Regions from separate parts of the Homo sapiens genome. Here region 2 is linked to region 1. A link means that fine-mapping ties the variant in region 1 to the expression of a gene that starts in the linked region. Tissue or cell type: lung. Region 1 holds a variant in brackets; the other region holds the start of a gene. All regions are shown on one strand. Distances are between the middles of the regions.

The links. PIP is the estimated chance that this variant, and not a neighbour inherited with it, causes the effect.
Region 2: it holds the start of CYTH1, and the variant in region 1 is fine-mapped to the expression of CYTH1 in lung (GTEx, PIP 0.99).

What each region holds. Positions count from the first base shown.
Region 1 is chr17:78,562,860-78,565,359 of GRCh38, forward strand. All of the region lies in intron 11 of DNAH17 (dynein axonemal heavy chain 17), which reads right to left. Among named protein-coding and RNA genes, the nearest start is that of DNAH17, 13 kb to the right of the region's middle. The variant G/C (reference allele first, on the strand shown) is at 1,452.
Region 2 is chr17:78,780,774-78,783,399 of GRCh38, forward strand. It overlaps CYTH1 (cytohesin 1), which reads right to left and starts at 1,500. Exons shown (of 14, transcript NM_004762.6): 1 at 1,429-1,500. The coding sequence starts at 1,450. RefSeq lists silencers at 620-1,019, 1,280-1,559, 1,600-1,759.

The sequences.
Region 1 (2,500 bases):
GACCAGAGAGAGGGAAGACAACCTCACACGAAACAGGGTCCCCCAGTGCTGGGTGTGAGTGGGAAATCCAAGAGAGTTTCCCGGGGCTGCCATAACCCACGCCCAATGGGGGCCAGACCAGCTGCGGTGAGCCTGAGTCTCAGACTTTCCCCAGACTTGGGTCTGAGAAAGGTGACCACTGTCCCTAGAAATGGCCACAGGAGGAAAAACCAAAACATGACTGCGAAGAGAGGGAGATTTTTCAGGCCCCCAAGAGTACAGATTTCCCAAATGCAAGATTGCGGCTATTTTTAAGTTAATTGTGTTTTTCAAAATTGTTCAAATCTTCCTTACCCAAATTCTGATTTCTCCTGGGCTTAGAAAAAAATTGTCACCCTTGGACCTATTTGTATTGTGAGTTGTACAAATGGAGCAGCCGTGGACTCTCAGGCAGACATGGAAACGCTGGTGTCCTGCCAGCTACCGCCTTCCTCCACGGTCGCCTGCTGACGTATGAGGTCACCAGTTTCATTTGTTCAAAGCATTGACATGGGGCAGTTGGAAAAAAAAAATGTTCCTCTTAATGGTTTATGACTATCCTGTAATGCGGGTAGATGTTTTACTTGGAAGTCAGAAAAATAGAAAAAAACCCCAAAAACCTGAAGACCCATCATCCAGACAACCGACACACCTGTAATCCCAACACTTTGAGGGGCCGAGGCGGGAGGCATTTTTATTTTTCTCTGTCTTCCCATTTCTCTCTCCTCCTTTTCATGTTTATATAGTTTTTAGTTTAATGACTTTTGGAAAGGAAGCGAATTCTATTTTCCGCCAAAAGGAGATCATGTGGAAAATTGCTCTAGAACGTTCCTGGCTGTGTGCGAGTTGCTGATAATGAGAACTAACTCCGGAACAGGCAGGGGCTGGAAGGGACAACAAGGGAGAGAAACCCCAGGGCCCTATCCTATTTAGAGCACAGGGCTGTCAAACCAGGGGGAAAATGTTCTTAGGTCAAAGAGAAACGTGAACAGATGGCGATGGAAATGGGTTACAAGAGTTATTTCTCCCCCTGCCTCCCTCCCCTCCGCTTTTCTTTGTTTTAAATTGAGCATAAACATACGTGAAAATTTTTAAAAAGAGATCTTTCTTTTAGAGCCCAAAAGCCCCTCTTGACCCTAACAGGTGCCAGGGATGCAGGGGAAAGCCTGGGGCGGGGTGACTGCATTTGTTCCTCGCTAGCTCCATTCTGCAGAGGTCGGGTTGGGTTTCTTCCAGGACCTCCTGCTCCTCACAGGGTAGGGGCCTAGGGCTCCCGAGGGGTCACAAAGTTGAACTCGCCAACCCAGCTCCCTCCCCACTGCCGGATCCCCTAGTGAACCCTGGGGGAGGTTCAGCCCAGACCCGTACGCTGGTCCTTATCTGCTCTTCCCCTTGTGCCAAACTAGATGCAGGTGGCACAATCTCCATGTTGG[G/C]GACAGCAAGACTCTGGGGACTCATCTGGCCCTGGCCGGGTGACCAAGTTACTTAATTTTTCAGATTTTTCCACATCGGAACAGCAGCAGGGAGTCACAGCACCTCCCCGTGGAGCCAGTGTTAGGGGTGCAGGAGCCACAGAAGCCAGCTGCCCGCCCGCCCAGCCCATAAGCCTGTGCCCCATCTTTAATTTTGGAGACCCAAAAGTGAGGTTTCCAAATGAAAGAATTGGCTCCATTGGGACCCTTCTGCGCTGGGGCAGTCCTGACGCTTTTGTGTTATCCTTCAGGGGCTCCACGTGGAAGGCTTATGCTAGAGCGAAACTACCTCCCAACAACATTCAGAACAACCAGCCTCCCTTGTCAAGAGCCAGTTGTGCACTGCAGGAAATACTCAGAAGCGCCTGCCCTGTGCTAGGCTCAGTTCTAAGGGAACTCAAATCCAGTGCCTGACCTCAGGGAGTTTACCTTCTAGTCAGGAAGACAACGAACACACAGACATTAGTATACAAATGAATATGAGGGAAGGCCATTGCTGAGAAGGGACCAGCCTGGGGGCATTTGAGTGGAAGGAAGGAAGTGAGGACCCTGCAACTAGATGCAGCTACCTGGGGAAGAGCCTTCTGAGAAAGGGAATGTTGCCAGATTCTTTGCTTAGCCAAAGATTCTCATCAGGGTCTCCATCCTCCACCATCCCGCAGGGGATGTCTGATTACCCTAACCTGCTTCCAGCTAGAATCTTGAAGTTGGTTTAGCTAGAATCCCCCAACCCCTGATGTCCCCTCTAAGTAATTTTCTATCCATGGACTCCCACCCTGCTCCTTTGCTAGAAATTCCTACTTACCTGCAGTGTATTCAAAGCTGAGCTCCCATCGCTCTCCCTACACCTGTATCTATTGAGATGGTATAAATCGTGAGTAAGGTCTGAATCAAGTCAGCCTCATCTTGCTTTAGCAAGTATAACTGAATAATTTTTTCAACCACAGCAAGGAGGTGCTGTATTAATTTGCATTCATTGATATTTTGCCTGGAACACCAACTCGATCCAA
Region 2 (2,626 bases), 220 kb after region 1:
AGGCGGGTGGATCACCTGAGGTCAGAAGTTCAAGACCAGCCTGGCCAACATGGCAAAACCCTGTCTCTACTAAAAATACAACAATTAGACAGGCGTGGTGGCACGCGCCTGTAGTCCCAGCTACTCAGGAGCCTGAGGCAGGAGAATCGCTCAGCTCACCCAGGAGGCCGAGGTTGCAGTGAGCCGAGATGGCGCCACTGCACTACAGCCTGGGCGACAGAGTGAGACTCCGTTTCAAAAATAAAATAAAATAAAATAAAATAATAAAATAAAATAAAATAAAAAATTAGCCGGGCATGGTGGCGTGCGTATGGTTCCAGCCACTCAAGAGGCTGACGTGAGCTACGATCACGCCACTGTGCTCCAGCCTGGGTGACAGAGCGAGATCTCGTCTCTTAAAAAAAAAAAAAAAAGAAAAATGTCCCATTAGTTATTAAACTAGAATTGGGTTCCATTTGGCCACAGAGTTCTGCTTTATTTGTACTTTGCTACCAAACCACAAAAGTTCACCACTTGTTCTATTTGCCATTCTTCCTTTTAATTCCTCATGAACAAACTTAATAAATTAACTACAGCATGTCAAACAACCTTTTGCAACCCTTGCAATTTCAAACTCTTGGAGGGAGGCACCCCTGGCCTGGGCCAGCAGCCTCAACGCGCGGGAGCGAAGGGAGCGGGACAGCGGCTCCGCTTGCCAAGTCCCCAGTCAGGGGAGGAGCGGCGTCCCCACCGCGGTGCCCCTCGGGCTCCACACCCGCGTCTCGGCAGGCGGCGACGCACCGGACCGGCGGCTACCGGGCCCAGACTCCCGCGGGCAGGGCCGTCCCGGAGCCCGCGCCTCGCCGGCGGCGCCGCTCCCCGTTCTCATTTCTGAACAAAGACGTGGACCGGGCACAACTCGCTGACGCCGAGAGCGGCCGGAAACTGCGGGGAACGCGGGCCCGGCCATCCGCGCGTCCGCCCCGAGCCCCGCAGAGGGGCGGCAGGGCCAGCGACCTCCACCCCTCGGCCCCCCGGGACCCGGACTGCGACCCCTGCCCCGGGGACCCCAGCGACCCCAACGACTCTCATCCCTCAGAGCCCCTGAGATCCTGCCCCGCGACCCCAACGACCCTCATTCCTCAGAGCTCGCGGCGACCCCTGGCCCCGCGAGACCGCGAGCCCGGCCTGTGACCCCCGCCCCAGCCACCCACATCCCTCAGCGCCGCCAGCGACCCCGGCCCCGGCGACCCTCATCCCTCAAAACCCCCTGCGACCCCCGCCCCGCGAGGGCCCCGCGCACCGCTCGCCCGCCGGTCGCCCCGGGCTCCGCGTCCCGCACCAGTGTCCCCGGGAAACGCCAGCCGCCGCAAGCGCTGCCGGACGGCCGGGCCCGGAGGGGACTGGGGGACAGCGAGGGGGAAGCGTCCGCCGCCGGGGCGCACTGACCGTAGCTGTCGTCCTCCTCCATGGTGCGGGAGCCGGGCTCCGCGCTCCGGCTCGCCGCTCGCGTCCCGCCGCGCCACCCGCGCCCCCGCTCGCCTCAGCCCGGCTCGGAGCCCCGCCCCCGGCGCCCCGCGCCCCGCGCCCCGCCCGCCCGCGCCTGCGCCTGCGCCCGCCCCCTGCCCCCGGCCCGAGGCCCCGCCCCTCGCCCGAGGCCCCGCCTTCCTCCCGCGCGCGCCGCACCCCGGGTACCCGGCCTCCTCCCGAGGCTCCGGCCTGCGCACGCGCGTCCACCCGAGGCTCCTCCCCTGCCCCCGCCTCTAGACCACGCCCCCGTCCCGAGACACACACACCCCCCCCCCTTCTCCCGGTCCGCCTCCTGGGGCCGAGCAGGTTTCGGTTTCTGAAGGGCGGTGCAAGTCCCCGGGGTGGCGGACTCGACCTGGCCTGCAGCCAGGCTACTGCACGAAAGCCCAAGGTCGTGTCCGGCCACTGAAGGGCAGGGTGGTCCTTGCTGACGCCAACCTGGAAGGTCAGACCCGGCCCCAGCTTGCCAGGGAGGGCCCGGTCCTTGGCGAAAGGCCACAAAAGCTATTTGAAGTCATTTACTCCTGCGTTCAGAACCTTTACATGCTGTATGTCCTAAGTTTACTGCTTCTACTTCTTTTTATTTGTCCTGAGTTTTACCTGGGTCAAGATTGAAAGGAGGGCACTTCAAGTCCCAGCGTTTTGGATTTTATTTATTTATTGGAGACGAGTTTCGCTCTTGTTGCCCAGGCTGGAGTGCAGTGGCCCGATCTCGGCTCACTGAAACCTCCGCCTCCCGGGTTCAAGCGATTGTCCTGCCTCAGCCTCCTGAGTAGCTGTGATTACAGGCATGTGCCACCAGGCCCGACTAATTGTATTTTTAGTAGAGACGGGGTTTCGCCATGTTGGCCAGGCTGGTCTCGAACTCCTGACCTCAAATAATCCGCCTGCCTCGGCCTCCCAAAGTGCTGGGATTACAGGTATGAGCCACCGCGCTCGGCCTTCTCTTTCTTTATGACAGAGGACAATCCCACTGCTGCAGAATGCCAGCACCAGAACCCCCCTTTCCCCCTGCAGTCACTTGTGGCTCCTGCACCCTACACAGAACACTCACTGAGAACTCCACAGAGATCCCTGGACTGCTGGGAATTTTTTGGACCAACCAAAAAACGGGAGT